Regions from separate parts of the Homo sapiens genome. Here region 1 is linked to region 2. Evidence: fine-mapped expression QTL. A gene starts in region 2. The other region holds a variant in brackets. All regions are shown on one strand. Distances are from middle to middle. Region 1 overlaps HGD (homogentisate 1,2-dioxygenase). Region 2 holds the start of HGD (homogentisate 1,2-dioxygenase).

The links. PIP is the estimated chance that this variant, and not a neighbour inherited with it, causes the effect.
Region 1: its variant is the best candidate, but not a certain one, in a credible set for the expression of HGD in whole blood (TOPMed, PIP 0.75).

Annotation. Positions count from the first base shown.
Region 1 is chr3:120,641,939-120,650,518 of GRCh38, reverse strand. HGD (homogentisate 1,2-dioxygenase) reads left to right here. Exons shown (of 14, transcript NM_000187.4): 7 at 2,608-2,642; 8 at 3,467-3,546; 9 at 4,153-4,252; 10 at 6,076-6,200. Among named protein-coding and RNA genes, the nearest start is that of HGD, 36 kb to the left of the region's middle. RefSeq lists an enhancer at 7,523-8,580. The variant A/G (reference allele first, on the strand shown) is at 4,115.
Region 2 is chr3:120,676,472-120,692,271 of GRCh38, reverse strand. HGD (homogentisate 1,2-dioxygenase) reads left to right here and starts at 10,033. Exons shown (of 14, transcript NM_000187.4): 1 at 10,033-10,175. The coding sequence starts at 10,161. RABL3 (RAB, member of RAS oncogene family like 3) reads left to right here. Exons shown (of 8, transcript NM_173825.5): 7 at 1,785-1,823; 8 at 2,384-7,334. The coding sequence ends at 2,449. RefSeq lists an enhancer at 14,315-15,265.

The DNA.
Region 1 (8,580 bases), 38 kb after region 2:
ATGGAGCCCTGGAATGCAGGAGTAGATCGAAAGGCATTTTGACTTTAAGTCTGAGTCCAAATATGCTTTTGTTGTTGTTTGATATTTCAAGGATTTTTCTGAGCCAAATATGAGTGACCAATGGCCTGCGACACAGCCATCAGGAGATCCTGAGAACATGTGCCCAAGGTGATTGGGCTACAGCTTGGTTTTATACATTTTAGGGAGGCATAAGACATCAGTCAACACATATAAGGTGTACATTAGATCCAAACTGTGGTTTTTATCTCAGTAGAAAAGTAACAGCAGATTTAAAGCAGGCAGAAAAGAAAACAGAGAAATAGAGAACTTAGAAACTCTGTAGTTGCAGGTTGACCTTTGGGCTCTGAATGATACAATTTTCCCATTGGTTTAAAATGTGCACAACAGACTGTAATATGTAACCAGCTGGAGTACTAGAAACTCTGGCATACCCTTGAACTTTTCCATTTTACACAAACACTTGCAAGTAGAGGCACCTTTCTCCTTGTCTTTCCTCATTCTTAGATTATTTGTTTCCCACGTTTTTTTTCTTAAAAGGAGGAACTGAGCTGTGACCTAGGGGTTTTGTGGGTGGTGGATTGGTGTACTGAATGTAGGCAGGACTCCACAGTGTTTCACCACCGAGTCGTTTCCACCCTCTTACCTGTCTCAGTTTCTCTCTCCAGAGATCTAGCACCTCTGAGAGGCCTCAAAATGCCAAGTGATCAGCTCTTATATGTATTTCCGGGACAAAACTATTTTTGGGGGGGTTCCCTGTAGCGCCACTGCACATCACAGGGGATGAATCCCTCAGACACTGCAACTCAGCCCCTAGTCACCCAGGGTGCCTTTCAGTTGGGAAGAACAAAATGCCCTTTCTCTTCAGAGCTGAGGAGCTCAGTCTCTCATTTATGCACAAAAATGACAGTCACACGAATGCGCAGGCAAGCCAACTGAGCTAAATTTGGGGAGAAAAAACAATGGAGTAGACCATTTAGAATACACCTCCAAACTGGAAACCAAACAGGGTACCCAAAAGGGAGTCATTCTTGTTGTCTTTAGAAAAAGACAACGGAGGCCGGGCACAGTGGATCACGCCTGTAATCCCAGTACTTTGAGAGGCCGAGGTGGGCGGATCACGAGGTCAGGAGCTCGAGACCAGCCTAGCCAACATAGTGAAACCCCATCTCTACTAAAAAATACAAAAAATTAGCCGGGCGTGGTGGTGGGCGCCTGTAATCCCAGCTACTCAGGAGGCTGAAAAAGGAGAATTGCTTGAACCCGGGAGGCGGAGGTTGCAGTGAACCGAGATCATGCCATTGCACTCCAGCCCGGACAACCGTGTGAGACTCCATCTCAAAAAAAAAAAAAAAAAAAAAGAAAAAGAAGAAAAAGACAATGGAGAAATCCTTTAGAATGGACCTGTGAACTAGAATTAGGAACCTAAACAAGAGCTTCCTAGGAGGGAAAAATCAAGAACTGTCAACCAAACAGGGCTCAGGAGGACTTAACAGTTCCATCAGAGGAGAAGCCCAAAGTTGAAGGCGCTTTCAATAGGTCCCTGCTGATACCTTAGCTCTGAGTTCAGGCAACTCCTTCAGGGTTCTGAGTCTTCTCTGAGGCCCAATGTGTCCAGGTGCCAAATTATTGTTGACAAAAATAGTCAAACTATTAATATGTAAAATATTTGAATTGATGTATTCTGAGCCAAATATGAGTGACCAGTGACCCATGACCCAGCCCTCAGGAGATCCTGAGAACATGTGCCTTTGAATATCCTTAATTTCTAAGGTTCCCCAGGGCTGTTCTTGAGTCCCAGGTCACAGTGTGTGAGTTTCCATTAGGACCACCCATTAGTAGCAGGCTACCCGACTTTGGCTTCAGCTAACAGCTCTGTGTAAGCTTAAAATTCTTAAGTAGAGGAGCTTATATACTGGCTTTGCAAAACAAAGTATGCAAATGGCATTCCTGCCTTATTATACACTACCTCTGGAACTGGACCATTTGTGTCCAAAGCCCAACTCTACATTTCCTGGCTGAGCGACCTTGTGAGCCATGAATCAGGGACAAGATCACAGCCCTATGACAAGGCTCTGGAGGCCTCTCTTTGGGTCAAATCTCATATCAGGCCACCTCCCCTCTCTCCACTTGAGCCGCATTGGCCTTCATTCACTTCTTTCAAGCTGCCGCGTGCCCTCCTTCTAAGCACTTGCACTTGCTGTTCCTTCTGCCTGGAACATTCTTTCCTTTCTCCAAACCCTCACCTAGATAACACCTTCAGATATCCGGTCAAATGTGTCCCTTCTTTGAAGAAGCCTTTGCTGATTCTTCAAACTAACCAAGTCGCTATTCTTTCATTCCCTCAAACTTGATTTTCACAGGGTCATTACAGTCTGCAAAGATATTGTTCTGTAATTATTTGATTGCTCTCTGACTCCCCACTAGACTCTAAGTTCCACAAGGGCAGAGCCTGGGTCATTTTGCTCCCCATTTTATACCCAGCTCTGAGCTTGCTACATAGGCACTAAACAATGATTTGTGTTATGACGTAATTTGTCTAGACAATGTTAAAACTGAAAATCACAAGAATTACTCTATATGTTTCAGATGCTTTTACAATTCAGATGGGGACTTCTTGATTGGTGAGTTCTGAAGACTTCAGACCCCCTCACTGTTAATTGACCCCTAACCGCAAGCTGCTTTCTAATTTTATACACATTATTTTCCTTCATTCTCCAATCTGTCTTATTTCATTTAGTGCAATCCAGAGACTGAGGTCTAGAGGCCACAGGTGGTCTGGAAAAGATTTCTAGTGTACCTCAAAGCCCCTACTCTATTTCCTTGTCTCTCTGTCTTTGCCCATCTCTTCTGGACCTTTCTGATGTGGGAGACCTGGGCAGCTGAAAAGAAATGAAGACTAATACTAATGGGATTAACTTATTACGGTAACTGTATTTGCCTTGAAACTCTCTCAGTAAAAGCCCATTTATCATTAGTAACTGCAATTTAAATTCAAATTTTCATGAGACCATCTAAAATGTAAAGTCTATCAGAGATTGTTCTGGTCTGCCTATTATACTTGATGGTTTTTTAGTATCAATATTTTGGAATCAACATTTTCGTGTATATGTCACACAAGCAAATGTCAGCCTTTCACTGGAACTATCAGAAATGGGTGATTTTCCATCCTATTTCTGCTACCCCTTTTTGACCATGTCACAAAATTGTGCATATACAAGTTCCTTGCCTGGTGACCAAAAAAGCAGAGTCATTGTTTTATTCACATTCTTCTAGATAGGAAAATAGCTAATCTAAGTTGTCAGAATTTATCTTTTTCCCCAAGAGACTCAATAAAGCTCTTTGCATTTGGAATGGAAAAGCAAATGCAGCCTTAAGCCTTTCCTGTTCATGAAATGGTTATCACACCAAAAGAATTGCTCACCACTGCCCTGTCTTTTTTTGTCAGTTCCGCAGAAAGGGAACCTTCTCATTTACACCGAGTTTGGCAAGATGCTTGTACAGCCCAATGAGATCTGCGTCATTCAGGTTGGTGATGTGTCCCCTTCTCTTCCCTGCCTCTCACTAATTTGGGAGCAGTCAGATGTTTCAGCTGCTGCTATTTCCAACTCTAAAATTTCTCTGTCATGTCTGGGCAACGAGGAGGGAATCTGAGTTATGCAGAAGGTTCCATGTGCTGAAGAGTAAGCAAGCTTGGGTGCCTGCTTTCTTTTAATATAGCACATAATTCTAAAGGAAAGACCACTTGTCATTGCACTTTCCTAAATATTTACATATACTCTGGATAAGGCCCTGTTCCCACTAATGGCAGTAGAGGCAGTGAAGGTGGACTTTTTTTTTTTTTAGTGTGGCTAAATCAGGCTTACCATTATCTCTGGACCCAATGAGAGGGTAGACTAGAATTGGCTTGGGTCACATGTGTGATTAGGAATTCAGTTTTTCTTTTTAAACTGAATTTTAAAAATTTCTTTTTAAAAAAATTCAGTTTTTCATGTTTGCTCTGGTCACCTCCCAAGCAGCTCAACAAACAAGAGCTTTACTTTTGCATGTGGGATGGGCTATGGCTCTGGGCAGCTTCTTTATAACTACAGCTGTG[A/G]TTTCAGAGGGCACACCAGTGTCTGCTTTCCATTCCAGAGAGGAATGCGGTTCAGCATAGATGTCTTTGAGGAGACCAGGGGCTACATCTTGGAGGTCTATGGTGTCCACTTTGAGTTACCTGACCTTGGACCAATTGGTAAATCTTCATTACAAGCCTCTAAGCCTCGCTTGAGATGTAGGACTCAGATAATTGCATGAAAGTTAAACATCCTTCTCCCTTCGCTGTCTCACTCAAACTTCCACTTTTCTCTCTAGACAAATTCTTCTCTAGACCAAGTGTCTTCCCAGAAAATATATGCAAAACAGAAAGCAACCCAAACCAATCCATTATAAATCTCTCTAGAATAGTATACAGACATTGGAGATAAAGACGGCATGTAATAGATTTCTGGTTGCATAGTGTGTACAGGAAAGAATATAGAAGTTTGGGTTACTGTGGGCTTGGGTCACCAGAAACAGCTCCACAGAAGAGATGAGAATTTGACTAATTCTTTATGAAAAGTTGAGGAGAGTAAAGAGGAAAGGGAACAGCTTTGCAAAAGCATATAAGTGAGAATAAGCTTTGTGATTAGGAGGAAGATATTTTTGTTAAGTCAGTGAGATTTATAATGGATTGGTTTGGATTGCTTTTTGTTTTGCATATTGTATAAAATGGGAAGGCCATAAAAATGCCCTGGGCTGTATTCCTATGGAAAGGAGGGATGGACTGGGTGACACATAGTCTATGAACCTCTGTGTACACCCCACCAAATCCACACACTTAGCAGTCAAAAAAACACATCACTCAGTGCTATGAGAGATCTAGAAACCACACCCCAGGAGGCAGATTAAAACATTCCAAAGTGAACCAAGGTCTCCACAGCCCCCATTCTTCTGGCAAGCTGGAGGAAGTGAAAATGTTAGGAGGGGTTGTTCTCAAACTGTCTCTTGGATTGAAAGAAATGGCTGGGAAAATTGGCCCTTGGTTTACTCTTTGGTCACATCTCCCAATTCTTCCCTTCCTTGTCAACAGCTTTTTAGAGCAAACAGGGACAGGCCAGTGTGTGCCTTCTGGTCAGCTCCTCTGAGGAATCCAAATATGCAGAGGAAGGTGGGAGGCAGCAAGAGGCAGCTGGAGCCGTGGTGGGCCGTCTGTCATCCTGTTCACCTCCCACTCTTCCCACTCTGCTCTGGCTTCCTGCTGCTCTATAGTCAGCATAGCCTCCAGGTTCCGTGGAACATGTACCCTCTGGAAAATATCTATAATTTGCTAACCAGCCGGGGACTTATTTTTTTAAGTCCAGGAGCTGGAAATGATAAAACACTCCTCAGCTCGCTCCTCTCAGAGTTAAACTGTTTTTGCACTTAAGTTTTTCATGTTTGGTCTTTTGATTTATTTCCTTTCTCTGGAGGAAACACTCACTCCTAAGCAAAGGTAAGCAGGCAGGTCCTAAATACTTCTTCCTGAGTGGCAGACAGGGTTTTTCAGGCTGGAGAACCGTTTTCAGACTGGAATCTGAGTTCTGTCTAGGGAGCAGAGGCATGCCTTAGGCAACAGCGTGTAACCCTTTCTATCTGAGATCAAGGACTGTCAATGACTTCTAGAATATTCAAGGGTTCCTTCAAAAGAAAAAGTTCTGGAGTTCTATCAGATCTTCCCTTTTCCTCTTTTCAGTTCTCTTTCTCTCTTCCCTTCCCCTCACCTGTAGTGATAAGATAATGCATATAAGATTGTTTTGTTAACCATAGTCACTCCACAACCTTAGAAAGTAATGCTGGTTTTTGTGAATTTTTTTCTGACCAGATTCCTTGGGTCTTCCTAAAAGGTACCAGACTGGAAATGCAGTGAATCTTTGAGCAATGAAAGCAATTTGTGGAGTAGCTCTTGACATGAAAGAAAGCCTTTCTCTTCATGCAACCATGGGCATCTTTCCTATGTTTTGGAAGTTTCTAAAAGACTTTTGGGTTACTGTTTTCTAGGGGCCAATGGCTTGGCCAATCCTCGTGATTTCTTGATACCCATTGCCTGGTATGAGGATCGCCAAGTACCAGGTGGTTACACGGTCATTAATAAATACCAGGGCAAGCTGTTTGCTGCCAAACAGGTAAAGTAAAAGGGTTGGCAGGCAAGGGAGGAAATGAAGAGTGATTGAGCACTTACTGATTGCCAAGGCGAGTGTTACAAACTTTACATATATCCTTTCGTTGTTATCATACCACTACGGCACTACAAATAAAGCAAATAGTTCTAGTAGTCAATTATACTTTCATAGTCATGGAAAAGGCCAGTAATGATAAATAATTTACCAATTTCACAGTAAGTGGCAGAACCAGAATTTGAACCCATATCTGTCTGACTCCAAAGGTTGTGCCCTTTCTACTCACCAAGCAATGAAAATATTAGCAATATGTAGGTTTCTATAAGTGGTATGGAAAACATAATATATGGGCAGCATAATATGTTCTGAAAAGTAAATGAGTTAACAGATCAGCCAAGATTTATAGTCTCCAATACCACCCTATTTCAAATACAAGCAATTCTACAAAACAAGTAGAATTCAGTTAATTAGCTTGGCTTGGTTTGTACCACCAGGCTGGCAATTCAGGACACAAGCAAAGGCACAGATATTAATAAATAATAATAACAACAATGTAATATGGACTCTATAACATAATATATTACTAAATGTACTGAATATATATTAGAATAAAATAATCATATAATAAGAAGAACCCAAAGATCTCTTCTGTTTAGCATTATTTGTTTGCTTCATTTTGTCTATTTGACTTATTCCTTATATTTTCCAAGGTATGTTATTCTTCTTAGGCAGCATCTAGAGATAATGCCAACCAGCCGAGGCCAACCAGTTTGGCACTTAAAATTAACCCCTGAAGCAGACATATTGTTATTCTCTTATTCTCTGGGTCAAGGTCTCTCAAAATTCGGGGGCTATTTGCATCAGAAATCCTCAAGGAGGCTTGTTTAAAATTCAGATCCTAGGCTGGGCATGGTGGCTCATGCCTGTAATCCCAGCAGTTTGGGAGGCCAAGGCAGGCGGATCACCTGAGGTCAGGAATTCAACACCAGCCTGGCCAACATGGCAAAACCCCGTCTCTACCCAAAATACAAAAATTAGCCAGATGTGGTGGTGCACACCTGTAATCCTAGCTACTTGGGAGGCTGAGGCAGGAGAATCGCTTGAACCCAGGAGGTGGAGGTTGCAGCGAGCCAAGATCATGCCATTGCACTCCAGCCCGGGCGACAGAGCAAGACTCCCTCTCAAAAAAAATGCAGATCCTTAGATACTACTCTAGCCTTGCAAAAAATGATAAGCTTTGGAGATGGGACATGGAAACCTACATTCATTTTAAGCATGTTCCCCAGATCATTGTTTACATACAATTGTTAAAGAACCACAATTGTAGAAGCAGCCAGTAGCTCCTCCGAAAGGTTTGCACTTTCCAAGTGGACCCTGTGCTGGTTATTTTCTGTGTGAGTCCCCACTGATCCATTCTCCCTCTTTGCCATGATCTGTGCCCTGGAAGGTTGACTGTATCACCCGGGCTCCCTAGCCAGCTGGTTTCTGTTGGGTTCAACCCACAGGAAACTACAAGGCAGGAGGAAAGACAAATTGGGATATTTCTTCCCCTGCTTCCTCGCTGTTTAGGACTGTGTTTCTGACAGTAGCTGCATCCCCCATATGACCTCAGTTCCTGTTGGGTAGCCCTAGTGGTGGGCTGGAGCTGATTCATAGTGACTTGCAAAAGCTGATATGCACGCTTCTGTCCAACTGTGTATTTGTTGATGTCATACTGGTAGCTAGAAAATCATCATGGTGAGACTGTATACACCTTAGAAATCAGTAAACACTATATGTCAATGCTTTATGTATTTTTTTCAGAGTGCTAGTTGTGAAATATTTACCAGCACACCACTGGGTAACACCCTTCTTTATAATTCTAGCTCTTGCTAAAGTCCTATAACAATATTTCCCTCCTCATTCCACATGCCCAGGAATAGCAGTGTCTTCCCGCTATTGCTAGGCTCAGATACCTCAACATTTCTAGTCATTCCAGTTAACCCTAACCACGCCTCTATGAGTAGCGCCTTCATTAAAATCTTTAGCACTTTCGGACCCATAGATACAGAAGGGACCACCTTCCTATAGCAGGACACTGATCCTCTTCTACCCCAGGACAGGACCAGGAAGTATTATGTTAGGATTGCTCTGAAATCTCAAGTCCTTGGAGTTGGAACTTTTAGAGGCCTTCTCCCCTCTCCTGGACTCACCAACCCAGGCACTGTGTCTATTGCAAGCTCCTCTAGGCTGAAATTACCTGGAGAAGCATCACAGCAGGTACTCTCTGTTCCAGGAAACAGAAGGTAGCCCAGATTGTTTGAGAACTGCTGACATCCACAGATCCTCACAGTTAGGTTAAAAATTGTTGAAAAGGCACTACTTGGAGAATGTGCTGTGTTTCTGC
Region 2 (15,800 bases):
AGCCGAGATCGCACCACTGCACTCCAGCCTGGGTGACAGAGCAGGACTCCATCTGAAACAAACAAAAAAAAAAGATTTCTTCTCCAAAAGGAAGTCTAACTCCTTCTCCAGCCTCTTTCAACTAGTAGTAATTCCTCACGCTCCAGAATAATCAGATTTTCCTGTCCTGCCATAGAGAGGAAAGGGAATCAGTCTCCTTCTTGGTTTTTGTGGGATTGTTTTAAGATGTACACTAATGATAAACCAACTTTTCTACCTCTGGGGTAAGTGAATGCAACTTTGCCCTGGTGTCTTGTGGCTAAAAATAATCCAGCTATAGTCTCCAAGACAGCAAGAATCTGGATGAATGGCTGTCGCACCAGAGAGAGCAAGCTGGTCTTGGTCTTGGATCTGGATGAATGGTCTTGGTGTTGAATCTGGATGAATGGCTGTGGCACCAGAGAGAGCAAGCTGGTCTGTTCTCATTCAGAGGAACTCTTAGCTGCATAATTTCAGATTTGAATGTCTTAGAGTTCATCTCCAGCTGATCTGTATTATTATCCGATTAACTTTTCTTATCACAGCAGGTCTATGTAAAGAAAATACAGCTATTCCTCAACTTGCGATAGGGTTATATCTCAGTAAACCCCTTGTAAATTGGAAACATTGTTAGTCAAAAATACATTTATTACACCCAACTTACCAAGCATCGCAGCTTAGCCTAGCCTTCCTTAAACATGCTCAGAACACTTATGTTAGCCTACAGTTAGGCAGAATCATCTAACACAAGCCTATTTTATTAAAAAGTTGTGAATGGCTCATGTAATTTATTGAATACTATACTGAAAGTGAAAAAAGTGCCCATTGTATGGGCACTCAAAGTACAGTTTCTACTGAATGCATGTTGCTTTCACACCACCATAAAGTCAAAAAATCGTAGTCAAGCCATCCTAAATCAGAGACCATTTATAATACTTCCTCTGTAACCATTGCAGTTTCTCAAGTGTCAGAACAGAATTTATTATTCTTGAAAATGTTTTTCATCATCTGGAAACATGGTGCTCTTTAGGGTTTACAGCAGTTTTGGGAAAAAATGAAAACATGGTGCTCTTAAACTTATTACATTTGGACATATATTTTGAGGGTTTCTTTTCAATAATGGTGATGGATTTGTGCAGATACATCTGCTGCTTGAACATGTTTTTTCTACTTATCAAATGCAGGTAATTCTGAAACTACTGAAGTAAGGGTGCAGTTAGTTAAAAAAAAGTAGACAATTTACAACAGTCATTAGACTGCTTTTGATGTTGTGTCATCTGTCTATATTGAGGACATATAGAATTTGTCACCACTTACTATAGGGATGTGGTGGTTTGCTATGTTAAACAGTCCCCTCTTTAAGAAATAGACAAGACTATTGTAGCAGGCAAGTGCTTTTTTTATTTTATGGATGCTGTTTAGTACCTTTTGGGACTGACTGCTAGGAAACTTAGAGTCAGATTTGCTGTCATACTCTAAGAATTGCATAGGATCTTATATCATTCTATCATTATTTAGTTTTTGTTATTCATTTATTTTTTGATCTATCATTAATGCGTTTTGGAATGAGGCAGGCTTTTATGGAAATACTCTCACAATTCTGATCTCATTAACACCAGATTTTTAGCTGACTGTACTACATGTCTACTGCTATGGAAAAGATTCTTAGTTTGGATATATTCCTTTTAGTACCATTAGTGGTCGTTGCAGTTAGCCACTTTTTGCAGGTATGTGTGCTAAGCCTTTAAAATCTTTGTTTTTCACAGGTCATAGAGAAGAGATACTTTTTAAGAGAAGGTAATCAGGTTGGTATCTCTTTTCTTGATAAAATAGATTCTTAAATTTTGATAGGTGATTTCCAAATTTAAGTTCAGAAGTAGTTTTAAAAAGTTGGGGAAAGCCCTTTATAGGCACAAGCAACTGATTTCCTTCTATCCTGTTAAATACAAAAGGAGAAAATCAGAACAAAGGGAAAATAAGGATCTAGGAAACAAATATAATCTAGGAATAAGATTACATTATAAAATAGAAGAAGAAAATAATTTGCTTGGGACTCCAAGAGTATACGTTCAGGGTCTGTCACAATACAAATAATTTCTATAAAAGTCTAGTAGGTATTATGAGATTTACCTTCATTCTTTCTGATTTAGATGACACTATCACCAATTTGTTGGGAAATGTTTTCCATTTGGGTAAGATTTATTTTTATTATTTAATCTGTGGTTTTCTGAGTAAAACCTCAGAAAGTTGTTTTTTTAAGAAACAGCAGGCTGACATACAGAAATGGAAAAGAAGGGAAAAATTACTATTAGTATTTGAACTTTTATTGCTTGAGACTTAATGCAATTATCTTTCTTGCCTACAGATTCCAGGCTTTCCTGATCGGAAAAGATTTGGGGCAGGAACATTAAAGAGCCTTCATTATGACTGAATTACACTCATCCTTTGGAAGAGTGAGCAAGCAGTGGCAGTTTTTCACAGCTCATCTTGCTGTGTTCAATTATTACCATCACAGCCTTTTAACAAAATCATCTTAAAATGCTACCCTTCAGCCTTACCCTTTAATGGAAAAATGAAAGGAAGTGACAATACGGGAGGTCCAAACTTTGTCCCTGTTCTCTGTGTTCCTTACCTTTCTGTCCCTGTGTATAGATTATGTAAAAGCCTTGTGTAAATATGAGATGTTGTCAAAATGATGCAGTAAATGAGCAATGACAGTGTACTGCAGAGAAAATTTACTCTTGCCTAGAACTGGAGGGTTTTTATGGGTCTGTAATTTTCCCACACTCATTGCTGAAAGCTTAATTAAGTACTTCAAAAACGTATCTCCATTGTTTTACCTTCTTGAGGGGAACGGTCTTGTTAACCAGCCCTGAGTTGTCTACCCCAAACAATCTCTGTCATTTTCAAAGATGCAAAATGGTGTTATTTAATTGTCTCCACCATTGTCACACACAGGAATGCCTAATAATAGCAACCCTTGTCTCCCTCTTCTCTCCTTTGCAAATGGCTCAGTGACTGGAAGAGGCGGACTAATAGCCAGAGTTAAATATAAATACAAATTAATAATACATAGAGAACAGCAATACCAGAAAAAAAGAATTCTGGTAAAATGATGTGAAAAATTGACAGCTCCCTCACTCTTAAGGTTGCTGCTATATACAGTCTAGGTTTTCTGTTTGGAAATAGGTAGGGTAAAATCTAAGACCTGCACAAGGGCAGTGAGAGACATTTACAGCCTCCTCTCTATTTGTTTTTTTAAGGAAAAGTCAACTCCTGAAATGTCCCTTAGCTATAATCAGAAAACTAAGAATATTATTCTGTGTCAACAATGTATTTATGGAGAGAAGTAAAAATAAGTTCCACAGCAACACATTTACATGAATTATGAACTAGGATTCTTGGATTTCATAATCACTCCAAAGCTTTTTGGGGATGGTGTGTGTGTGTGTGTGTGTCCGTAATTGTTCATCATTACTTTTTTTAACCTATCTTTTTGCTTGCTTAATCTTCTCTGCCCCAGTTCTTCCTGAGTATATGAATTTGATTTCTAAAAACAATTTATTCAACACTCTATCACCCGTATTCTCTCTCTGGCTCTGCTGCAGGTCTCTGCACTCCTGATTTTGCTCCATACTTTTAAATAACAATAATAAATATACAGTTTTCATTTCTCATTTAAAAAATAGGTGGAAAACACCAAATTCACTTTCTGTTCCATTTTAATTAGGTTTCAGAAGTATCTTGGAAATCAAGGTATGCTGCAAGAGGATATTAAAATAAGAATGTTAGAGAGTCCTTTTAGAAAGGCAGTCTTGGGAATTTGGAAAAGGATTTTTAAAGCAGCTTTCATCAGCTAGACTGTTCTCCAGCCTTTCTTTACTTCCTCTTTGAAAGGACATAGCCCTGGTTTCTTTTTGACACAAAGGAAAGCTATGCAAATCATGATCTGTATGTAGAATTGGTCACAAGTATGTTGTTGCATAGGCTGTACAGTTGGGAAGTAGAAACCAAATGCTACCCAGAGACCTAACCCAATTAAGCTCTTTGTATTTCTCCTTCAAGAAATAAATCTTCCTTCCTTCTTTCTTCCTCTTTCTTTTAATTTTAAAAAAATTCATCCTGATTTTTTTATTTTCTATCTTATTTAAAAAATAAAAATAGGCCAGGCGCGGTGGCTCACACCTTTAATCCCAACACTTTGGGAGGCGGGTCGATCACTTGATATCAGGAGTTTGAGACCAGCCTGGCCAACATAGGGAAACCCTGTCTCTACTAAAAATACAAAAATTAGCCAGGCCTGGTGGCACGCGCCTGTAATCCCAGCTACTTGGGAGGCTGAGGCAGGAGAATCACTTGAACCTGGGAGGTGGAGGTTGCAGTGAGTCAAGATCGTGTCACTGCACTCCAGCCTAGGTGACAGAGTGAGACTCCAACTAAAAGAAAATAAATAAATAAATATATAAATATATAAATAAATAATAAAAGTAAACTATTGCTGATGACTCCAGGGTCAATCTGGAAAAATTAACAGTATTCCTCAACTCCATTACTTTCTGCAGCCAAGCTTGATTCCTTGAATTATAGTTTTCTAAGAAAAAATAGTTTTTAATAATCTAAGGTAAATTTGTTGCAATTATTAGCAGCAGCATAATAAGGCTTTTTGCGCAAATGAATGTTATTAGCTAGAGTTATTCAAAAAAGAATGAAGCACAATTTTTGCTAGGACTTCTTGAGAACTATTCATAAAAATGCTTTTAGATAATAAACAAGTATAAATGTCAAAATATTTTTTTAAAAGTATAATTGGCCAGGTGCTGGCTCACGCCTATAATCCCAGCACTCTAGGAGACTGAGGCAGGAGGATCACTTGAGCTCGGGAGTTTGAGGCTGCAGTGATTCATGATTGCACCACTGCCTTCCAGCAGCCTGATGACAGAGTGGGACTCCATCTCTTTACATATGTATATCTTACTCTCTTGATGGGACAAGTTGGTAGAAATAAAGATTTTTTTTTTCTGTTGTGATTTCGGTGTCTGACCAATTTTCTGACTCATTGTGAAGGTGACCAGATATGAAGGCATATATATGACTACTCCTCTGTCCCTTAGGTGTATAAGACTTAGCTGGAATCCAACTAAAGATTTGGGCTGGTCTCTCCATCTTAACGTTGATGGGATTCAGGACACATAACCCCAAAATATTGCACCCTGTTATTTGAGAAAACTGCAGAAGCAAGGTTTCTCATACCTTCCCCTTACCCCTTCTCCCCTGAAGCAGGCCATAAACCCTAAGTGACTGTTCCCTGAAGTAGATCATAAAACCTTCATTCCATAGGTACCCTTTATCCTCACAGATACAGAGACACCAAGAAGAATCTGGACAAATAGGACTTGCTAAGTTCTCCACAGTTTATTACCATTAGATTATGTCCTTTTGTCCTCTGATTATACTTCTGCATAAGACTGTACATAAAAATACACAAGTTTTCCTATTTCTTTTTTGTCTTCATTTCTGAAGATTCCTGTCATGTAAAACTTACAGTAAATAAATGTGTGTGCTTTTCTCAATAATCTGTCTTTCGTTATAGGTGCCTCATTTGTGAACCTAGTGATGGGTGAAGAAAGAAAGCTCTTCTCCGCTACAGTGCTCTAAGAAAAGCTATTCCCAAAAGAGTTGATCCATATTAGCTTTAGCTCGGGTTCTTAGAATTCCTCAAACTTGAGGCATTCATGATATAATCCAGGTGCCCTGACACTTGTTTTTCTGTTCATTCTGACATGGACTTCATGGAAATGATGTGCAGGGACATCAGACTGAGGTGAAGAGCTCCTAATTGCTCCTTGTAATCAGAGTTTCTGAGTCCTCATTTCAATAGTTTGCAGTAGCACCCACCATAGGTAGGACCTTGTATGGGTTACTAGATGGTGGCTTAATTGAATTTTTTAAAGCACAGGTGACATCATATTTTAAGAAGTTTAAAGGTCTAACAGGGTGTCTGCATTGGTTTAATATATGTTAAAATTCAAAGGAGGAGTCTGTTTTGGGGAAAGGAGGAGAAGGAAATTAGAAATTCATTTCTCCGCAGTCCCAAGACTGAGCTAAATCACTGTGGTGGGAGAGGAAGGGTCGCAGGAAGTCTAACCCTGTGTCTCAAATATTTCACAACATGTTTGCCTACACAAAATATCTGATGTTAGGGTCAGCTGGGGCTGCTCCATAGCATAGTAAAGGAATTGGACATCCAGTTACAATTAATCTGCACCTCCATTAAGGACTCACATGGAGGGCTTTCAAACTCTGAAGTGTGTAAGAATCCCCTGAAGTGCTTGCTGAAAATGCAGATTCCACGATTTCCTCTCTCTTCCCTTACTCTCCCCTTTCTATATGTATAGGATAAGGCCAGGATTTTGTATTTTTAACAGACAAGCCAGATTTTTCTCATGCAGATAAGTCAGGATCTAGCCTTTAAGAAAGACAAATAAACTCATCAAAAAGTAGGGAATATAGATTGTGAACTCTGTACTTTATGAGTGCCATTATAGCAGAATTCATCAAAGCGCATCTTTGACTGCCTCAACCTGATCTCACCTTAATGAACTGATCCACTCCTCCCCACTCAAAGCTACATATGCCAAATTAAACATGAGATGATTGTCATGTCTTCTGTTGGCAAAACAAGTATTTGTCTTTCATGTATTGCTATCATTTTTATTACTGCCACTGTTTTTCCCCTGGGTTCTGTTTTTAATCCAAATATATTTATTTCTAACCAGTGCCTTGCCATCTTACACACAGCCCCCTCTCTAGTACTGTGTTTTCTCAGCTGGCTAATCACTAAGCTTTACCGAGGTCATCAATAACTAATGACAAAGAATGGAACCCCTAAACTCCAACCAAGGTGTAAAACCTCGCTCAGTACCATCAAGTATATCAGGTAATCTCTCCGTTCCATCTTTTTCTCGGAGACATCTGTCCTGGAGTCCTCTGATGCCTAACTCCGTTTTGGAGTGATTACTCTGTAGACCTGTCACACCCTGCTTCACATTACCTTGTAGCAATTCCTGGATGTAATGTTTTCCACTTTCTATCCAACTCTTACTCTATGGGACTTGGCTCAGACATAGTCTTCTCTGGGAAGCCCTCCCTGGCTCTGCTCGTCTGGGCTACGTGCCCACTAGTGCTTCCCCTAGATCCCTGGGCTCTTTCCTGTCAGAGCACTTACACTATGTTGTGATGGTTTTCAAAAATTGTTAAATAAATGAATGTATAATTACATTAATTAAAATGGAAAGCCATTAGACATAGAATCAGAACTTATCTGTAGCTGTGTAAGTTATTTATTCTCCAATCCCAGCAGGACATGATGGCTTATGCCTGTAATTCCAATACTTTGGGAGGCTGAGGCCAGAGGATGGCTTATGCCTGGGAGTTAAAGGCTGCAGTGAGCTGTGATGATGCCACTGCACTCCAGCTTGGATGACACAGCAAGACTCTGTCTCTAAAAAAAAACATTAAGTCAGGTGCAGGAGTTCACGTCTGTAATCCCAGCACTTTGGGAGGCTGAAGTGGGAGGATTGCTTGAGCCTAGGAGTTCAAGTTCAGCCTGGGCAACATGACGAGACCTCATCTCTACTAAAAAATTTTTAAAGTAGCCGGGTGTGGTGGTGTGTGCCTGTAGTCCCAGCTACTCAGGAGGCTGAGATGGGAGGATCGCTTTAGCCCAGGAGGTTGAGGCTTCAGTGAGCCATTTTTGTGCCACTGCACTCCAGCCTGGATGACAGAGAACCTGTCTCAAAAAAAAAATTAAATAATAAAATAATATTTTAATATCCCCTGTGTGTATTCTCTCCTTTTAGAAGGAATCCCTAAAGTTTAGTGAAAGATGTATTCAACTTTAAATATTTTCAAGCCCCTCAAAGTAATTTTAATCCAGTCAAGGAACTGTTAACACTTTCTTACCCCTTCAGAAGTCTCTCATACCTTAGGAAAGAACTGAAACACTTCTTAAATCTGCCTTCACAACTGGTTCAATGGAAGTAACATAGAAAGTTTGTTGAAAAATAAGGCAGTAAAGATTTCCCTTTGTCTTTTATTAGCTCCCATTTGTTTATCTAATGACCAACTGCTAACTTCCAAGATCAATAGAGATTGAAGGCCCAAGGTACTCATAAACTTAGATACACAGGAGATATTTTCTTCGAATTCAGTTTCAGAGTCTGCATGTTATAGGAATAGTGAAAACTTAGCCTCAATAAAGCTAGGGCCTCCACCTACCTTCCTCCTAGGTTTGCATATGAATTCCAGAATAGTTTATATAATGCCACAATGCCATCTGTCTATGCTGACATATGCTGAGGTTTCCTATCAGCTGCCCGGTCCGTAGGCATCAGTCCACATGGTTTGCTACCAGCATGTTTCCTATCAACATGTCCCCTTTGGTCTGGCCCAGTCTGTGCTAGCACCTCATACACAGGCAATAATTCTGCTGCTACTGCAGTATGCTGGAGCCTGGGGACCCTTGGAGGTTGTTTAAGCCCATTTATCTAAAGCAGAGGGTCTCAAACTAGCAGCCTGTGGCCACTTCAAATATGCACATGTTTTTCAACCTGCATGATTATATCAGTTATTTATCACTGCTTAACAAACCACCCCAAAATTTAGTAGTGTGAAATACACCATTCTATTTGTTCCCAATTCTGTGGCTCAGCAGTTCGGGCCAGATTTAACTGGTGGTTCTTCTGCTGGTCTTGCCTGGGATCACACATGTTCTGCAGTCACCTGGCAGCCAGACTGCCTCATTCACATGTCTGGCAGTTCCTGTGGGGCTTGCAGGGCTGTTGCCTGGACCTCTGGAGGCCAGCCCAGCTTCTCTGCACTGTGGTCTCAGGCTGCAAGAATGGGCCCTGTCCTAAGGCACAGGCATGTTTCAAACTCTGTGTCATGTTTGCTACTAGCCAAAGAAAAAGACCCTACCTCTTGATGGGAGGAACAGCAAAGTCACATTCAAAGGGGCACACATACAAGGATAGGAGGAATTGGAGCATTTTTTGCCATCTACCACAGGGTGGTTTCTCTGTCTCTCTCACTCTAATTACCAATGGTTAAAAATTGGAGCTTCATCTTATCTTGAAAAATCAGCTAGCCTACTTTATTCACTTACACTTCCTCCCTCATCTGTTGGCATTTGAGTTGTGATAATGCCTAATTTACAAGATTGTTTTTGTGAAGTTAGATATGGAAAAATCTGACAAAAGCAGAAACTCAATATATGTTTTCTCCTTTCTGAACACCACTAGTCATGAAGCTGCTACCTGCCAATGACCAAGGAGAGCGGCCAAGATGAAGAACAAGGGAGTCATAGAGGAGGTGGCTGGAGAATAATCCCTTGGTCTGTTTTAGAAGTATAGAGGCATTAGGAAACAAAACTCTTAAAGAATTTATAAGAAAACTAAACGTACTTTAAGAAATTAAAAGGAGCAGTAGGAAACATATCAGTTTGCTCTAAGTGAAATATCTCAGGCTCTGAATGGTTCACCCAAGAACCTGAGCTCATTCCTGGGAGGCACCTGCAGAAAACTGGTTCTGGTCCTGGTCCCTGTCTTCAGGTGGCTGTGTGTAAACATCTTACCCCAGTGTACACATCTGCAGCTGGTAAATGCCTGGGGGTTTTCTCACTGCTCTCCAGGAGACTCAGCACTGCCCTGTTCCTTCCTAGCCTGAGTCAGGACTGAGCAGAGAATCCTCCACCACACACAGCAGGCACTATCTGCCACAGTTCCTTTCCCCGATAGCTTCAAATTCTCTGCCTTTTGAAATAAGCCTACTTTTAACTGGAATAAATAATTGGTCAATCTCTACCTCAGGTGAAGAGGAACCAAGCCTCTGGAAACACTTAGGAACAAACTGTAAAAACCAAAGGCAATTGTGTAACCGGTTAAATAAGCTTGCTGGACTTTGTCCCTGTGTATGAGTTAGACAATTCTTTCAGCTAGTTTGAGTGACGCACTGACCAGTGAAGCGCAGTGAAGCAGTGGGAACCGGAATATCCAAAGAGTGGTTTGAAGGAGAAAGAAGCATTGTGGCTTTATATCCTCTGGGCCTGGGTTTCCTGAAGTCACCACACATAGAGGAGAGAGAAAATGGCTGAGTTAAAGGTAAGAAACCATCTGACAAGTTTGCTATGGCTTCTTCAGCCAAAATTTATGGAAGTTTCTGAGAACTTCAGGGTATCAGAGTTGGAAAAGACTTAGAGAGGCCCTGGTTCAAACCCCTGTGTTCAGAGGCTTCCCTGTGGTGTCTGTGGGCACAGCTGGAGCTGAAGAACAAGGGAAAGGTGATAAAGGAAAGAAATGAAGCTCTTATTGGTCATCCCTTGCCTTTGTTCATTTCAATTATTGTCTTGGAAATCTGTAGACATCCTAAGAGCTCCCCTCCACTACGGACATGCACGTTTCTCTCTATGTCTTTTTCCCAACCCCTGCTCTGACACCTTCCCATTGCTGCAGCCTCATGGACCACTTCCGGTGACCAGTTAGATATGCTTGATCTATTTAGTTAATTAAGGCTCTGAATCAGCCCTTGGCCAGAAGAAGCACCTCCTCTAGGAAATCATTCCTTCTTTTTAGTAATACGCAATTGAAAAGTATGTGTGGGTTATGTGCTGTTAGGTGCTAAGCATTTTAGCTATGAATTAACTCATAATCCTCAAAATAAATCTGGGGTATAGAGAGAGGTTCTTGTTTCAATTAGAAAAGTAATGCTTGGAGAGACTATGATTTGCCCAAGGTCACTGCCAATAGATGACTTGATTAGAAGCAGGGTATGTTTGAATGCGAAGTCCAGGCTCAAAAAGGGGCCTTAGTGGCTCCTACTAGACTGGTATCTTAAGGCAAGGAAAACAGAATATGTCCCTAATATCTAAAACCATGCCTAGTGCCCAGGCCAGGCTTGAATCAATGCTCAACGCATGCATGTGTAACTGAACAGAACTGCCCAGAACCTTGGCTCAGGCCAAGTAGGCCAGACCACCCCACAACAGACATCTTCCCTGAATGCAGGGTTTGAGAAGTGCCCTAATGCCCTCTAACTGATGCTGAGTTTGAAGAATCCATCAGTTAAGGGGAGGTGTTTCTGAGTTTGAAGAATCAAACACCTTCCTAATTGGTAGGAATCCTGAAAACACTCCACACCGGAGTAAAAGACTTTGGTTTTTTATCTTTATGCCTGACTAAAAGTTAACTCTCATTCTTTCATTCAGCAAATATTTTGTGCTAGTGCATGACACTGCAGATTAATATCGTAGATGAACTGAGTCTGGGCTAGGTAGAGTCAAAAAAAAATTTCCTAAAGGAGCCTGTACCTAAACTGAGTCTTCAGAGAGAAGTTGGAACTGGCAAAGTGAGGAAGGACGGGGTCTGGAGGGAAGAGTGAGTGCAAAGGCACAGCACATACAGAATGCCTGCATGCTCTAGAATCCAAAACTGTGTCAGCCAAATTTGAGTTGATGGAGGGACAGCCAAACTGAGATACCCAGGCGGTGGTTGGATTTATGGATCTGGATTTCAGGGGAGTGGGCAGGGCTAGGGGAATAGAACTGAGGGTCATGATGTCAGTGGTAGGAGTTGAAGTCTTGGAAGAAAGAGTAGATAGAAACTTTGTTTTCTGATGAACATTCTATGAGGAAGTTCAGCAGAGGTTGGAAACATCTTTACCATTTATAAATAAATTTTATGTAAAATCCTATCCTGCTGTCATGTTTAAGCAACTTATTATGCACAGCACCAGGACATCAATGTAAATTGCATGCCAGTCTTTGCTCTCAGTTTCAAAGGCATTCTTCCCTGCCTGCTGTCTAATCTTTACAAAGAAAGGTTAACTCCAGAGGTCAGGAATCTGAACACAGAAAACCAGATTGCATCATATTCATTCTAATCAATAAACATTATATAATTTTTAAAACTGTTTCTCATCTTTTATTTCTTCATTTTAATGAATATGTCAACACAAAGCCGTAAATGAAATCACATTTACACAAAAGTACAACTGGGGTAAGAAAATTCAAAAGATAAAGTAATAAAATTAAATTTAAAATGAAATACCCTATGTATTTGAGTAAGTTGCTTAGCTTCTCCCAACCTTGGTTTCCTCATTTCTAAAACGAAGAACTTGCTTAATATTCAGGCTCTGGGCCCCACCACCAAATCCTTGATTCACTGGCTCTGGGTCTGTATGTAACAAGCTTCTGGAGTGATTCTAATGATTAGCCAGAGACAGGACCTACTATTCTACGTAACTGATTTCCTCTTGCTGCTGTAAAAAATTACCACAAATTTATTGGCTTAAAACAACACAAATGTATTATCTTGAAGTTGTGGAGGTCAGAAGTCTGAAATCGGTTTCACTGGGCTAAAGTCGAGGTGTCAGTGTGGCTGTTTCTTCTGGAGACTCTATGAGAGATTGTGTTTTCCTGCCTTTTCCATGGATTCTGTTTCCTCTTCTAGAGGCTACCCACATTCCTTGGTTTGTAGCCTCTTCCTCGATCTTCAAAAAAATGTATCTCTGCTTTTGTAATCACGTCACATTTTCTCCTCTTATAAGTCAAATCTCCCTTTGCCTCCCTCTTATAATGACACTTGTGATTACATTTAGGATACACCCAAATAATTAGGATATCTCCCCATCCCAAGATCCTTAATTATATATGCAAAAGTCTGTTTGGCTAGAAAAGATAATACTCACAGGTTTCAGGGGTTAAGCCATACATATCTTTCAGAGTGAGCCATTAGCCATTATTCAGCCTACTGCGATAATGTGCAAGTTCCCTTTACAATCTATGTTCTATGTTCCCATCAAGGTTAATTAGAAATATTAGACTCTTTTTCCACAGAAAAAAAAAATGTAGCAGTAGTTTCATCTCTACCCTGACTTCTCTCTCTTTCCTTCATGCCCAGTAAGAGGAAGTGAGGTGCACCATCTGTTCATCTCATCAGGTGTTACCTAGAATCAGAGTCAGGAGAAAGCACCTCATAAAACTACTCTGACAAGTAAACCATATCCTGGGGACCAGGTGAGAATTAAAAAGCTGTATACTCATAAGCTGCCAAAGAGCTGATGGTACTGAAGTCACATGGAGCTCAGGAATTTATTCTTGCATTTAGAAAGTATGCATATAATTCTCTCGAAAAGAAATGAAATCATATTTTTCTGTCGGATCAAATTATTCAGAAATCCGAACTGTAGAAAACATACAAACACACTTGCTTAATGTTAGCTTTTTAATCTTATTTTTGTACACAGTATACTTTTACATAGGCACTGAACCAGCTGGAAATGAATGCTTGGATTTTCGCAGCTGATAAAAGCAGAGTTCAGATTCTGTCCTTGAGCTCAATGTCTGGAGAAAGCAGCTGTGAATACTGCTTCCTTAATTCAGATGCCTTTGGCCGTGAGGGGCATGGCATTTTAAAGCTGCAATAAACTCTGTACTTTTTCTCTCAGGGGATTAGAAAAACCAATTGATTTGATAGTGACTCAGCAGTTTTCACCTTCCTCTTTAGCCAATGCCCTGCAGCTAAGATTGAGAAACGGATTCAGAACTCACACCTCTTGGTGCTTGGTGGCTCCCTTCCAAACCATCAGCTGTTCTTTCTACTTTCTTTCCTATTTTTTAAAGCACAGTCTGAATCAAGTGCTTCAGAACCATTTATACTAACTCGTGTTCCAAACACATAACCCTGAACCCTCTTCTAAGGCCACCAGTTACAAAGAATGGGGAAGGTTAATGAGTAACTCCACCAGTGCCTGCCAGAAAGCTCAGCTGTACTCCAGCCTTCCTTCCTCTCTTGCAGAGAGAAACAATGCGGCAGTTGAACAAAGCGAAGGCACTGTAATGCCCAGTGGCTTCAGTCACAGGCTGGTCTAAAATTCCATTTCACAGAATTGAAGATAATTTGGGGTTATTACCAATTCTCAGCAGCTCAAATTCAATCCCGTTGATGGTGAGCATGGGGTTCATTTTGAGAGTAGAAAATTGGATGCAGTGGAGAATCAGAATGTTGGATGGTCTCTGCCATTTCCCCAAAGATATCATCCTAACTGCATGCTGCTGCTTTTAACAAATCAGTATACAACTTAGTATTTTTTGTGTTGACAAATTTTCAAATATACAAAATATTGAGTCTGAAGGCAAAAAGAATAATTTTTCACTTCCATTGCTTCCTAGGTCATAACATTCACATCTGATATTTCTTCCAAATACAGACTGTTGTTGGCCTGATCATCACTCACACATCCAGGCTTGTTACATCTCCACGCCACTGAGTATCAGGGAACCTGCCCCAATATTCACGTAGGTTCTTTTCTATTTTCCCTAAGCGTCGGCCAACTTTAGAAATAAAGGGACAGAGTACAAAAGAGAGAAATTTTAAAGCCGGGCATCCGGGGGAGGCATCACATTTCGGTAGGTTCCGTGATGCCCCACAAGCCACAAAAACCAGCAAGTTTGTATTAGGGATTTTCAAATGGGGAGGCAGTGTGCAAATAGGTGTGGGTCACAGACATCAAGTACTTTACAAGGTAATAGAATATCACAAGGCAAGTGGAGGCAGGGTGAGATCACAGGACCACAGGACCGAGGCGAAATTAAAATTGCTAATGAAGTTTCGGGCACCATTGTCATTGATAACATCTTATCAGGAGACAGGGTTTTTAGGATCAACTGGTCTGACCAAAATTTATTAGGCGGGAATTTCCTCTTCCTAATAAGCCTGGGAGCGCTGTGGGAGACTGGGGTCTATTTCACCCCTGCAGTCTCGACCATAAGAGACAGGCGCACCTGGAGGGGGGCTGTTTATAAGCCTATACCTCCTGGCTCGTATTCTCTTTCTCAGGGATGTTCCATGCTGAGAAAAAGAATTCAGCGATATTTCTCCCATTTGCTTTTGAAAGAAGAGAAATATGGCTCTGTTCTGCCTGGCTCACCAGCAGTCAGAGTTTAAGGTTATCTCTCTTATTCCCTGAACAATTGCTGTTATCCTGTTCTTTTTTCAAGGTGTCCACATTTCATGTTGCTCAAACACACATGCTGTACAATTTGTGCAGTTAATGCAATTATTACAGGGTCCTGAGGCAATATACATCCTCCTCAGCTGACAGGATTAAGAGATTAAAGTAAAGACAGGCATAAATCACAAGGATATTGACTGGGGAAGTGATAAGTGTCCATGAAATCTTTACAATTTATGTTTAGAGATTGCAGTAAAGACAGGCATAAGAAATTACAAAAGTATTAATTTGGGGAACTAATAAATGTCCATGAAATCTTCACAATCCACGAACTTCTGCCATGGCTTCAGCTGATCCCTCCGTTTGGAGTCCCAGACTTCCCGCAACAACTGAGAACTCTGGAGGGCCTACCCTTCACCCACTTCCACCCTTCTTATATCTCTTAAGGAGCTGTGTTCAGATGGTTACATTTCGCTTGCTGAGCAAGACTGCATTTTCATTATCCTGGGCTAAAATCAATTGGTATTTAAGTTAGAGCAAAAAGGGTTCTAACCCTATTTACAGCAGCACACATACACTTACATTAGAATTGGCTTTAAGGGAAAAATTCAATCAATCGACAAATTTCCACTGATTACCTTCTATGAGCCAAGACTGCCATAGTCTCAGCCTTCATGCAGCTTATAGGCTAGCAAAAAAGCCAGACAGTGCACAAGAACTCACAAGTGTGTTGAGTGTTGCAAGAGTAAGTTTCAGGGGCTCTCCATGACTTACCT